4 linked regions of the Homo sapiens genome follow. The protein of the gene in region 3 purifies or fractionates together with the protein of the main gene of each other region. This does not show direct contact. Each region holds a gene or a part of one and is shown on either strand. Other genes may lie near its edges.

Region 1 (4,097 bases), on a different chromosome or scaffold from region 3:
TAAGTATGCATACCCGTGGGGGCGCGGTGGCTCACGCCTGTAATCCCAGCACTCTGGGAGGCCGAGGCGGACGGATCACAAGGTCAGGGGATGGAGACCATCCTGGCTAACACGGTGAAACCCCATCTCTACTAAAAATACAAAAAATTAGCCGGGCGTGGTGGCGGGCGCCTGTGGTCCCAGCTACTTGGGAGGCTGAGGCAGGAGAATGGCGTGAACCTGGGAGGCGGAGCTTGCAGTGAGCGGAGATCGCGCCACTGCACTCCAGCCTGGGCGACAGAGCGAGACTCCATCTTAAAAAAAAAAAAAAATTAAAATAAAAAAAAGTATGCATACCCGTGTTTGTTTATAGAAAAAAATGTGTGAAAGAATTTAGTCTAAGATACGTATCCCTGAGTAATGAGATTATGGGCGATCTTATTTATACTTTCAGCATTTTTAGCAAAAAAACATGGATTTGTTTTAAGGCTAGTCAAGTGAAGCAATGTATCATTTTTAGAGTCAGAAAGAAACAGTAAGTTCCTTACAGCCTGGGGGCAGTAAAAAGAAAAAAAAATAAACAGTAACTTCTTTTGAAACTTTAAAAATAATCAAATCATTTCAAGATACATATTTTCTACCTCTTTGAAAAGATTTATTTGAATTAGTTATATCTCTTTTATTTGAATTAGTTATATCTCTTTTCTTTCACAAAAGGATTTAGAGTTGAGCTCTTCTCAATGAAAAAGTTCATTTTCTGTGTCTTCCTTTTTACCATTTAATTTCAAGTGTATTCAACCAATTAAGCAACAAGGAATTCCAAATGTGTTACCATCCTTCAAAGCAAGAAATGCCTGAGAGTCCTCACTATATTTGAGCCCTGTTAAGACTGCCTAGGGTACATAAAAATCCCTTTATCATCTCTACCAACATCACATACTACTAACTGTCCATTCAGTTGATGGTAAATTCTCCTAAAATCAGGCCTCTTGATGTGAACTAAGGCAAAGAGTTGAGTTTCAAAAACTTCAATACCATATTCAATAGGCCATGTCAGACTTCTTTTTCAAACAATTACTAGGACTTCTCCAGACACTGTCATCTTGGTAAATAGCACCTTCAATGCATTCATCTGATCAAACCCAGAAACACCTCTCCCCATCATCTCTCTGATCTCTCATGCAATTCCACTTTCTTCAAAATATATCTCATTCTCTTCTTTCCATAACCACTGCAACAGCTTTAATTGGGGGGTGGGTGGGTATTTTTAGCTGATAACATCTTCCACTCTTGCCCTCTCCTATTCTCCATATAGCAAAAGCCAGTCATCTCTTAAAAATGAAAATCTAATCATGTTTTAAAACTTTCAATGGTTCCCAATACACTTAAAATGAAATCAGCCATAATATATCCTTTACTCCCTGTATGATCTGCCTCAAGTCTTTTCTCCAACCTCTTCTGTCACTACCCCCTTTAACTACTATGTTCTAGCCACACTAGCCTTATTTTTGTTCCTTCAACCTGCTAAACCCTTTCCTAACTCAGGACCTCCAGGTATTTTTCTGTATGCCTGTGATACCTGTTCACTCTTCACCTTGCTAAGTCCTACTCATATTTACTTCATATCAATATTAAGAGAAGATTCCACATTTGCTTTGCTCACCTGGTACATAACTGATGCCCAATAACAAGCAGCTGCTTCAGTTTGTTAGCCAGTACTAGCACAAAAAATTAAAAATTCTTAAAATGAGGGGGAGTAAAAGTTACACAAAGGAACACAATCATATGCTTAAATCAAGAACCTAAGAGTGTCGATTTTCTTAAAAATTATGTTTTAAAAAAACTCAATGTTTTAAAAACTATTTCTTTGCAAAACTGTAGGAACTCTCAAAAAATCTATTAAAATGTTACCATCAAAAAAAGAGACTGGAATGAAGCAAGAATAAAACATTGTCACAAGTGATTGCCCAAGAGCGTAATGAAAACCCTTGAAATCATTTTTCTCTTCACTACCTTTTGTTTTACAAAACGATGAGGATGAGGCTGAATCAAAATTTTAACTGCAAACAGTTTACGACTCGGAAATACACATTTTAGTTACTTCTGGTCAAAATGAGAAAAAAACTTGCATGGCTGGCCATCCGAAATATTATACCATGTTTGGGTTAAATTTAAATTCCATTTAAAAGGAAATAAAGAGCAGGGGATAGGGGCTGTGAACACTAAAGCCACTGGAAAGTCGGAAAAAAGGGAACATTACCTGCTCCCTTTAATGTATGGTACAGACATTTTCCCACCCCAGAACGCCGGACACTGAACAATGCCGGACGGATTCTCTAGCAGAAATTCCACGCAATCAGTTCGATAAGCCAGGGTCTCTCTCTATCACTGAGCTCACATCCCGCCTCTGCCCTCAACAGCTTCATCGTCAGCACTGAAGTCTCCGGCCCACTCTCAGCGTCGTCCCCTGATCCACTCCTCAATCCTGGGATTCGCATTGAGTACATCACTTCATTTCTAGAGTCCCTTCTGAGAAATCGCTTCCACGAGCGCAATTTGCAAACAGCCACGGGCAGGGCGGGAGGAAAAAAAATGGGCTGAATGCCTGGCTTACCTGGGGTTGCACCGTGCTCGACAAGGAAAACATCTCCGGCGGGCCCTCAGCGACCTCACCCGCCTGCCGAAACTGTGCCCCTCTGTCCACGGCCCGGCGGGGAGGCGCTGAGCCCTTCTTTTTTCCTTTTTCTCCGACCCGTTGCCCCTCACTCCTCCCAGAAACGGAAAATGGCCTCCCCTTCCTACAGCTACTGCAACGACAGACAATCCGCCCCGGAAGGCGAGGCGCTAACTCAACAGTACTTCCGGGGCAAGTGAGCGCCCACAAGGCCAAGTGCCTGCGCGTTCTTTCCCGCGGAAGTAGTTGACATTTACAAGGAGCAGCGCCCCCAAAGGTCTTTAGCTGTTTTTTAAGGGGAGAACAGCCTTTACCCTCTTTGGACTTTTTCTTCGTTTTTTTTTTTTTTGGAGACGGAGTTTCGTTCTTTCGCCCAGGCTGGCGTACAGTGGCGCGATCTCGGCTCACTGCAACCTCTGCTCCCCGGGTTCAAGCGATTCTCCTGCCTCAGCCTCCCGAGTAGCTGGGATTACAGGTGCCCGCCACCACGCCCGGCTGATTTCCTCTTAAGACTTTCTACAGCTTCCTTATGAAATCTTCTGACTGGGCCTTGAGCAATAAGGTCTTTTGCTACAATTTAGTGCTCTTTTCCTCACACTAAATCGAAAACTCTCCCTGTTGGTCCTGATCTGTTTCAGTCAGGCAAATTACATCCTGGGAAAACGTCAGATGACAGGGGAGGCCACTCGCTTCCTGCTCATCCAGTTTCGACACTTTCTGTGCTTTCATTAGCTTCCAGACCTCAGCCCTGGCCCTCGCTTTACTGTACAGTCAGAACTGGTTTCTACGCCTCGCGAGGGTGGGAGGTCGTGTATGGGAGGAGGACCGCTTCCCACCAGCCTCGTTGGGAAGCCAGGAGAAATCTCTTCAAATCCTGCGATTCAGAGTCAAGTCCCAGTCGTCCTTTTTCTGGTCGGCCCAGAACTGTTTGTGCCTCCTCCCTCATGAGGAATGATGTCAGTGGGGCCGCGGTCGCCGCCCACGAAGAGTGTAAGGCTGCGAAGTCGGGGCTTTCCCGACGCCCCCTCCGTCCGCGTCTGCGTAGGGGAGGTGACGAGGGCGGGGCGCGGCGGCGGGGTGACGTCACGGCCGCGCGCGGCGTGGGCGGAGCCTCACTTTGAACCCAGTTGGCGGGAGTGGCTGCTCGCGGAGGGGCAGTGTCTGCGGGGCCGCTGTATGCTGTCCAGCGATGGATCCCACCGCGGGAAGCAAGAAGGAGCCTGGAGGAGGCGCGGCGACTGAGGAGGGCGTGAATAGGATCGCAGTGCCAAAACCGCCCTCCATTGAGGAATTCAGCATAGTGAAGCCCATTAGCCGGGGCGCCTTCGGGAAAGTGTATCTGGGGCAGAAAGGCGGCAAATTGTATGCAGTAAAGGTAGGAAGTCAACGAGTAGCAAGGAAGGGGTTAGGCCCTTCGGCCCTCCTTCCTGCCCCACCGGCTTGG
Region 2 (3,500 bases), on a different chromosome or scaffold from region 3:
TGAAGGTCTGGAAATACTGGAGTTGGGTGGGTGTGCAGGCTGTGGCAGGCACACAAAGGGGATAGGGGGAGCTGGTAAATCTGAGCTGTGCGAGGTCAGGAGTTCGAGACCAGCCTGGTGAAACCCTGTCTCTACTAAAAATACAAAAAAATTAGCCAGGTGTAGTGGCAGACACCTGTAATCCCAGCTACTTGGGAGGCTGAGGCAGAAGAATTGCTTGAACCCAGGAGGCGGAGGTTGCAGTGAGCCGAGATCGCGCCACTGCACTCCAGCTCTGGGTGACAGAGTTAGACTCTGTCTCAAAAACAAAACAAAACAAAACAAAAAACAAAAAAAAACAAAAACTGCAATATCTTTAAACAATGTTTTCCTTGTATTTACGTGGTCCTGAATTTTTTCCTTTGAAAAAGTAGTTTTTCAAAATAATAGCATTTCACATGTACTGAGTGCTTAGTATGTAGCAGGCATCATGCTGGACATAACCTCATCTAATCCCCATATCTAGCAGCCCTTCATGAGGCAGCTGGTATTATTAGTCTCACATTGTAGGTGAGGAAACAGGCTTAGGTTATATGGCTTTCCCAAGGTCATCCTGGTCACAGAGCTAGTAAGGACGACTTGGAATTGACCCATGGTGTAGCATGTCTGAAGTCCAAGGTCTTACCTCCCTCTGCTATGCGGCTCTCCACAATAAATCTGTTGCCCTGCTGCTACATGACACCTTGTATCAGGCTCCTGCAGACAGACCTGTTCTCTAAGATCTGAACAAACTCATCAGCCACTCACCTTAGCCAACAAGAGGCTGAGTGTCTCGAGCAGAGCCGCCTTCACATTCCAGCTGAACCTGTCCCCCAGGATGCGGATCAGAGGGCCAGTGATGCTGACCACGGAGGGCCTCAGGGCGTCAGCCGAGGTCAGGCGGATTACCAAGCCTAAGGCTTTGGCTGCCTCCTCCTTCTGCTCAGGGCTGCCAGTCAGGACTCCTTCCCGCAACACTGGAAGGATGGAGGTCACTCCCTGACAAGAGAACCACAACTGAGAGTCAAATCTCAAACACCCTGGGCCCTGGTGTCTCCCATGCAAGCAAAGTGGTCCTGACAGCTGTCCTCCCCTCAACTCCATGGGAGATATTGATTTGGGCTGAATCTCAGGATCACAGCCTGAGAGGGCTGGCTATGGAACGGTCTTGGCAGAGAAAAGACGACAAGGGCCCCAACAGGCCTATCACACAGAGAGAACATGCACTGCTGTTACCCTGTGGCCCACTCACTCTGGCCAAGGTGACCTGCAGAGCTTAAACCAAAGGCAGCATGAACCCTGTCCCCATCTGACTGCCATGGAAGAAAACATGCTGTCTGCGAAGGTGCTGAACACCAACCACCACGGCTACTGCTCCAGCAGCCCCTACCGCAGACCTGGGACAGGGGTAAGGGCCAGAAGGGCACAACAGACTGCACGCCCACAGCCCCCTGCACGAGGCCCTGGCTTACCTTCTTCGGGAGGCAGAATCCTGGCACATGCTCGCCTTTGCTCTCGTTCCCTATGAGCCGGATTTCCTTGTGCAGCTCTTCAATGAGTGCCAACTGGTTGCCAGCATCCAGCTTCTGCAGGAATCCAGGAAAAAGCGAGAGGATGTACAGCCCTCTCAAGACTGCTTCCAAAGAATATATGGGGAAAGCGTGGGCGGGAGTATAAACAAGACTTGCCACGAGTGGGTAAACGCCGAAGCTGAGTGACAGGTACGTGGGGGATTCTTATAAGTCTATTCCTGTAAATGTCTGGAATTTTCTAAAAGCAAAAGTTGGCTGTGGGGTCAGCAGTCCCCTCACCTTAGTGATGGCATTTAGGGCATCCCAGCTCTCCTCCAGAACCACAGGGCTGGAGTCATTGAAGAGGCGGATCAGGCCCGAGACCAGGCTCCGCAGGTGGCTGGTGTAGTCAGCCTTTGAGCGGGAACAGTAGATGTTGAGGATGATGGCAGCAGCTTGCCTCATGCCCACCTCAGGGCTGCGGGTGGCCTCCAGCAGATCCTCGATGATGATCCGGTGCCCTGTGTCATCCTCTACGGAGAGGATCACAGCCTGACAATTGGCCATCTCCTGCAAACCACAAGGGACATGTGTGCTGAGCAGGGATCCTCCGGGCAGACGGGACATGAGAAAGCAGGAGCAGGCTCGCCCCTTACCAGCTGCTCATCTGGGGTCCCAAGCTTTTCCTTCAGGGCCAGCATGACCGCTGGGAGGATCACGCCAAGATGACGGGTGAGGGCATCACCAGCCACTGACGAAAGGAAAGCCAGCACCCGGGTGTTGACAGGTGGCGTTGTCAGCTGGTGGAATGACAAACATTAACTCAGTGAATACTGTGCCAGGTGCTGCGCTAGGCTCTGGGAACAGACGGGTGGGCAAGAGAGCCCAAGCCCACTGCTCAGAGCCAAGCATCTACTCCAGCATATCTTGGAAGACAACAGGGGAAGGATGTAATGCTTGCACTGCACCCTCCTCCCCCAGCCCTCCAACATCTACGTTCAGAACTGGTCTTCACTGCAGGCCCTGGAAATGTCAATGCCCTGGAGCCAGAGGGTGTTGACCACATGTTGGGATTTACCTTGGGCACAAGGTAGGGCAGCACCACACGACTCTTAATAGCCATGACTTGCTTCAGACCATCCAAGGCAAACTCTGACACCTCCTCGTCATCCTGCAGAGGGTGTTGGGGACAACCCTGAGGAATCTGCATCTCTGCTGTCTCAACCAGCCACCGCCAACTTCCTTCTCCACTTGTTTCCCTCCCTCCTGTTGCACCCACATTTCCTCACTGCCGAAGGCGAAGCACAAAGCCAAGTCTGATCTTGCTATACCCACTCCCTCTGGAGGGCCCACATTGCGACTGCCTTGGCAGAATAATCGCCCTGTATTTTCCATCTACAAAGACGGCAAAAGCCAAACTGGTAGGTAGGTGTGTGGTAGATCCACTCACCAGCTGCTTTAGTAAAAATGGGAGAATGTCCTCCAGAGCCTGGTGGCCGATGGTGGAATGCAGCTGCTCGAAAGTCTTGGCTGCCGCCTCTCTGACCTCCTCCAGTGGGTCACACAAAGCCTTCCTTGCCGTGGGCACGAGGGATTCAGAGAAATACAGCACCTGCAATGGCAAGCTACAACTGTACCAGATGCAGGAAAGGCAAAGAAGGAGCAGAAGCAGACAAGAAGCACAGGCAGGGGACTCTGACCCAGCTAGGCCACCCTAACTCTCTTTGCCTGACTTGTCTTTTAACTTAACTCTTTACTGTGAAATAAAAAAAAGGAGAGAAGGGGCCGGGCACGGTGGCTCACACCTGTAATCCCAGCACTTTGGGAGGCCAAGGTGGGCGGATGACTTGAGGCCAGGAGTTCGAGACCAGCCTGGTCAACATGGCAAAACCCTATCTCTACTAAAAATACAAAAATTAGCTGGGTGTGGTGGTGCACACCTGTAATCCCAGCTACACAGGAGGCTGAGGC
Region 3 (3,386 bases):
GCTGATAGGAGACGTGCGGGGTGGACGGACTGCGGGACATCTGAAGGAAGGGCTCAAGGCGCGCCAAGCTCAAAGCTGGGCCGCCACTCTAGACCGTGGAGGGAAGCGCCCGGGCCAGATCATCGGTCGAGGACATGGGGTCGCCTCAGAGTGGGAAGGTGAGGGGCTCGGGAGGTGCCCTTACAAGCTCTGAATCGTGGCTTGGTGGCTGGCCAGCCTCCTCCTGCCTCCCCGGCTAGGCCCTCGGGGTCCCCCGCTGCCGTGGGACCTCCTGAGTGGGGTCCCGGGAATCACCAGAGAAGCACTGGAGGATGTTTCCTTTTCGACTGCCCTCCTTTCAAGTGCCCTCCTGGCTGCCTGCCTTCAAGGCAGGATGCGGGAACCGTTGGCTCTACTCAGTGCAAAAAGGACATGTCTATAGGGCTAAAAAGGGCTTGGAGCCCGGCGACAAGGGTTGGAGAGGGGCACATCCTCTGCTCCCATTCAGTGAATTCAGTGGATCAGTATCACGTATTTATCTTTAATTCACATCACAGCAGTCAAGGAAGTGGGGAAAGGGGGAAAAAAAATCAAGTGGCAGATATTTACATCTAAAATTCACATTACTTGTTGGATTTTGAACATGCTACCACAATATATACAGTAAAATACCTCTTGGGACAATGGTACAAATTTTGTTTCCTTTAACTTTGCTTTTCTGGTACAGGTAAGATCATTTTTAAATCACTTTTTTTCTTTAAACATGAATACACAAAAGAAATGGTTAGAAGTTTCCTTGTTTTAAATAAGCACAGAATGCGGGAGGTTAAAAACACATTTATAGTGCTGAATACCAATTGGACATCACACTCTATACATTTTTTGCTCAAATTCCTGTACAAATACACAGCATTCAAATAGGTATTTACAAATAAGCTTGAAAGAATGAAAATCAGTATTTTACAATCTTTTCAAAGGGTTCTCATCTCTGGCCTCCCATTTCCCCTCAGACTGACTTATTCTCCAACAAAAGGGATTTCAGAATGTGTCCTTTTCATTTAGTTAGGGAAAATGGAGAGGGAAAACAAACGGTTTCACCTTGCATAATGCGAAGCCAAATGAACCCATACTCCCCTCCCTACCTCTTGTGCCACCAAGTGGAGAAGGTAGCTGTTCTTATGTGATGACTGCCTTGTCCAGGGATTGACTTTCAGAAGTGCCTTAAAATCTAAGCCCTCCTACCTATGAATCAAATCCAAAACTAGCCCCTAACCCCTAACCCTCTAACACCTGTGAACACCAGATGGTCCAGAGATTGAAGCTTGCAAATGAATGTAGGCTGAGAAGCAGGCCAGCCCTTTGAGGTGAGGGCTGCTGTAACTGACCCATATCCTCAGCAGCCTTCCGCCCCACTCTGCCTGGAGTGAACCTGGTGGTATCAGAAGGGACCCACACTGGTGATAAACCCCCAGAAAAACCCTGGAGGTAATTTAGACCTCCATCTTTCCCAGTAGGTTATTAGCATTTCTGTTAAACAAGCTGGGGTTTGTTTACAAGAGAAAAACACACTGACCATGGCCTTTACTGTCTGGAAAGAGGGGCAGTGGAGAAGGGACAAGGGGCTTGGGCCCAGGGCCTGGCTGTGGAGGTCATACAGGCCAGCAGAAGAGGAACTGGGGGCAATACGCCTGCCCAACAAGGCAGCCTTGTGACCATCATTAATGTGAACTCGAGCAAATAAAAGAAAAAAAATATTTTGTAGGCTTTTTTTAAAGTAACTTAAAAGCACCCTGGTAAAGTACTACTATACCCACCTGACCCTATCCCCCCAAATAATAAACTGAGAGGAAAATCAGTGCCCTGACTTGAATGAGTTTCCTCTAAAGACACCACTGCTCTGCTTTATAGTTTCCTATAAAGACACCAACAGACTGGGGAGACTGGAGAAACTACCCTCCTGCCAGCCCCGAACCCTGAGTGGTGGTCCCCATGGCCTGGAGTGGGTTGCTGTATGTGGCCACTTGGGAGATGACAATTCTACCTGCATGGCTATCTGCTTCCAAAAGGAGAAGCCCCCTCCCACCCTCTTTACCCAGGAGCCTGCTGAACCTGACCACATGTCCTCAGGGCCTGGAAGCCTGGCTGGGCAGCCAACCCCATGGCTCAGAGGTAGTGCTGAAAATCCCTGATTCAGGAGCTGATGGTAGGCATTCTGGATGCTTCTGAAAGCTTTGAGGATTTCCGGCGCCTGCCACACCCCACACTCTTACACCAGTCTCTCTACCACATAGGAAGGGGACCAGCTCCCCCTAGGAGGAAGGTAGCTAGGATAGCCTCTCTGGCTCCATACCTCCACTCAAACCCCAGAGGGCGGGAGATAACCCTTGCAGATCCAGTCACCACTGGGGCTCCTGTGGGGCATGAGGTGTTTCAAGAATGGAAGGGAGCAAATGGTCAGAAATGATGTGATGGAGAGAAAAATCCAAGGTGGAGTAGGAGACGGCTGGCCCATTGAACCCTGGCAGTGCCCTGGGCATGCAGTTAGGCCAGTCACATGCCTGAGCCAGCAGGTTGGTCCAGCCAGCCCCTCAGTAGCACACTCCTGGATGGAAGAGGGGCAGGTGGGCAGGCATTTGTGCAAAACGGCTTGTGGCCCTTTTTCCACCTGTGACATGTCTATATGGTCCTTGCAATCCCTGAATGCAACCATGAACTCTTCTGTCCATACAGCAAAGGAAGAGGTCCTTAGTGCAATTTCCATTCGGTGCATCTCTACCCTGGAGGGAGGGCCTGGGCTCCCACTCCTGGGCCCTGCAGTGTGGCAAAGTGATTCTGTCTGTGCAATTTCTCCATGTAGCTCCACATGGTCCAGAACTGCAGGAGGAAGAAAGCATCTACTGCATAAAGGAAAGAAAGGAAAACCCATAGAAATGGAAATGTAAAAAAATAAAAAGGGAAGCCACAACCCTTCATGCTGCTGTGGCCTCTGTACATGGCAACACATGAGTTCACGGCAGTAGAACGGAGACTTGGGGGTGGTTCTCTCCTGAGTGCAAGCCTCTCTGGCTCCCTGGGGTGGGGCTGGGGGACTTGCTTTTCAGACCTGGAGTGATTGGCAAGCTGCTTACTGAGGGCGGCATCCCAGCCGCCTCGTTGCCCCTCACTGCTCCCCTCGGCCGTGCTCCCAGGCCATGCGGGCCTGCTCCTCCTTAGCGCTCCCAGGAGGCAATGGAGCCTTGCGGTGCAGGCCTCGAGGCCTCTCAGTCTCTTCACGCAGCAGCACCCCCTCATCGTGCTCCAGGGCCGGCAGGCGGGGGTGGTAGGGCTTGGGCGGCAGCGCAGGCGGGTCCATGGGGTCCTGAGGGATGACGCACCCTGGGGCTGAGTGGCTTCGGCATGGCTGGGCC
Region 4 (2,548 bases), on a different chromosome or scaffold from region 3:
GACTCAAGTATCTCTCTCTTCTTTCCCCTCAGACGATTGCCTACAGCATTTTATGGGACTTGAAGTTTTTGATGAGGTATGTGCATTCTGGTTGGTTTTAGTATACGCTCCTTCTACAGGTTGAGCATTGCAAATCCAAAGTCTGAAATGCTCCAAAATGGGAAAAATCTTGGGCACCAACATGACGCTCAAAGGAAGTGCTCATTGGAGCATTTCAGGTTTTGGATTTTCAGATTTGGGATGCTCAGCCAATAAGTATATAATGCAAATATACCAAAATCTGAAACACTTTGGGTCCTAAGCATTTCAGGTTAGGGATACTCAATCTGTATTTCTAAACTCAGTTAACTATTGGTTTGAGTAGACTTCTCTGGGTCTAAACCAAGCTTGTCCAGCCTGTGGTCCACGGGGTGAACATGGCCCAACACAAACTCAAAAACTTTCTTAAAACATTGAGAGTTTTTTTTGTGATTTTTAAGTTTTATTTTTTAGCTCATCACCTATCATTAGCATTAGTGTATTTTATGTGTGGCCAAGACAGTTCTTCCAGGGTAGCCCAGGGAAGCCAAAAGATTGGACCCCCCTGTCTAAATTGTGCCTCTTAGAAACAGGTTCTGAAGAGGATGTTGCAGAGCCCCTAGAATAGTAGAGACTGAAGCCGTCTCTTCTGACCCTTATTTCACGGGTGTGGGGACTCCGGGTCTGAGTGGAGGACAGACCTGACCACGGGGACCCAGCTGGTCAACACTGAAGCTGTGACTAGGACTCGGTTGTGTGTGTGTTCAGGTAGCCTGTCACTGTCGAGTTGTAAAGATACCTCTGTCTCCTGAGCTATGTAAGGTTTTACATGGGTGTAACTCGAGTCTGAGGTCCTGTGCGCATGCCTGCCTGGTCCTGCTTGGCAGATCACTGGGTTTGGAGAAAGGGAAGTAAGGGCCTTCTTATACTGGCAGCAAGGTCTCCCTGCACCTGGTCTCACAGACAGGCCAGATCCTGGTGAGGCTTAGCTTCCAGCCCACATATCTGTTCCTCAGGAACCTGGCCCTGGGAGGAGGCCTGTTGCTGCTCCTAGCAGAATCCCGTTCTGAAGGGAAGAGCATGTTTGCGGGCGTCCCCACCATGCGTGAGAGCTCCCCCAAACAGTACATGCAGCTCGGAGGCAGGGTCTTGCTGGTTCTGATGTTCATGACCCTCCTTCACTTTGACGCCAGCTTCTTTTCTGTAAGTATTCCTACTTGCCTGAACCGGTCTGGTTTCCTGTGAATGCTGTCCCTCCCCCACCCCCTCCCTGCTCACCCCTCCCTGGTTGGGTATTAACCACAGCCTGGGGGAGCTGCTGAAATGGAGCAAACTTTTTTTTTTTTTTTTTTGAGACGGAGTCTCGCTCTGTCCCCCAGGCTGGAGTGCAGTGCGTGATCTCGGCTCACCGCAAGTTCCGCCTCCCGGGTTCACGCCATTCTCCTGCCTCAGCCTCCCGAGCAGCTGGGACTACAGGCGCCTGCCAACACGCCTGGCTAATTTTTTGTATTTTTAGTAGAGACAGGGTTTCACCGTGTTAGCCAGGATGGTCTCGATCTCCTGACCCCTCGTGATCTGCCTGTCTCAGCCTCCCAAATTGCTGGGATTACAGGCGTGAGCCACCGTGCTCGGCGGAGCAAACTTTTTGATCCCATTAAAACAGACCAAAACATCGTCAATCTCTTGTGTGTCAAGCCTTCTTTCCAGCAAATGAAGGCCAGAACCTCTGACCTTGGTGGAGTGTGCTTGGCCCTTGGTTGGCCAAGGCTCTCCACCCGGGCTCCCCTTACTCTTCTTTCTTTCCTCACTGTTCGTATCTTTCTCAAGTAATTCCTGTGTGTCAGGTGTCAGGGGCAGGCCTCCAGGAGCTTCCAGAGCACACCTCCGGAGCTGACTGAGAGCCCTGGCCGGGTAGTGTCCAGGAAGAGCTCCTGGCGCCATGGAGAGAGGAGAGAGGATGTTTCTGGCCTGGATGGCTGGGTGGGCCAAGAAGCACTTGGGAATTTAGTTATGGATTAGAGATTCATCTTGGTAAATCACAGCCTGTTACTAGTTGGGAACTTCAGTCTTCCCCAAACCTTCCACATTTCAAAGCTGGTGCTTTATTGCCTCCTGCCTCCCTTTGGCTTTTATCTCCCTACTTGCACCAGCAGCCGTCTCAGCAGTAGCTACATCAGCCTGATGGATAGAGACTTCATGACGTGCAGCAGCTGGAACTTTTGTTTATAAAGCATCTCTTTTCCTCACATTTATTTTGAATTTCTTACGTTTCAACCTATGCAGATTGTCCAGAACATCGTGGGCACAGCTCTGATGATTTTAGTGGCCATTGGTTTTAAAACCAAGCTGGCTGCTTTGACTCTTGTTGTGTGGCTCTTTGCCATCAACGTATATTTCAACGCCTTCTGGACCATTCCAGTCTACAAGCCCATGCATGACTTCCTGAAATACGACTTCTTCCAGACCATGTCGGTGATTGGGGGCTTGCTCCTGGTGGTGGCCCTGGGCCCTGGGGGTGTCTCCATGGATG

Evidence for each region.
Region 1: the proteins of DOCK3 (region 3) and YME1L1 purify together in Homo sapiens (affinity purification with mass spectrometry, with the first as the bait; one large-scale study listed by BioGRID). This does not show direct contact.
Region 2: the proteins of DOCK3 (region 3) and GCN1 purify together in Homo sapiens (affinity purification with mass spectrometry; one large-scale study listed by BioGRID and IntAct). This does not show direct contact.
Region 4: the proteins of DOCK3 (region 3) and SURF4 purify together in Homo sapiens (affinity purification with mass spectrometry; one large-scale study listed by BioGRID and IntAct). This does not show direct contact.

The regions. Positions count from the first base shown.
Region 1 is NC_000010.11:27,151,585-27,155,681, forward strand, and holds the start of YME1L1 (ATP-dependent zinc metalloprotease YME1L1), read right to left. Parts: upstream 2,801-4,097; 5' UTR 2,627-2,800; coding exon 2,594-2,626; intron 1-2,593. Other genes in the region: MASTL (serine/threonine-protein kinase greatwall), read left to right, coding at 3,843-4,028. UniProt on the Homo sapiens protein: ATP-dependent metalloprotease that catalyzes the degradation of folded and unfolded proteins with a suitable degron sequence in the mitochondrial intermembrane region.
Region 2 is NC_000012.12:120,135,716-120,139,215, forward strand, and holds part of GCN1 (stalled ribosome sensor GCN1), read right to left. Parts: intron 3,142-3,500; coding exon 2,980-3,141; intron 2,701-2,979; coding exon 2,608-2,700; intron 2,330-2,607; coding exon 2,186-2,329; intron 2,100-2,185; coding exon 1,830-2,099; intron 1,605-1,829; coding exon 1,491-1,604; intron 1,018-1,490; coding exon 787-1,017; intron 1-786. UniProt on the Homo sapiens protein: Ribosome collision sensor that plays a key role in the RNF14-RNF25 translation quality control pathway, a pathway that takes place when a ribosome has stalled during translation, and which promotes ubiquitination and degradation of translation factors on stalled ribosomes.
Region 3 is NC_000003.12:51,381,313-51,384,698, reverse strand, and holds the end of DOCK3 (dedicator of cytokinesis protein 3), read right to left. Parts: coding exon 3,140-3,386; 3' UTR 501-3,139; downstream 1-500. UniProt on the Homo sapiens protein: Potential guanine nucleotide exchange factor (GEF). GEF proteins activate some small GTPases by exchanging bound GDP for free GTP.
Region 4 is NC_000009.12:133,363,513-133,366,060, reverse strand, and holds part of SURF4 (surfeit locus protein 4), read left to right. Parts: intron 1-32; coding exon 33-76; intron 77-1,034; coding exon 1,035-1,221; intron 1,222-2,301; coding exon 2,302-2,548. UniProt on the Homo sapiens protein: Endoplasmic reticulum cargo receptor that mediates the export of lipoproteins by recruiting cargos into COPII vesicles to facilitate their secretion.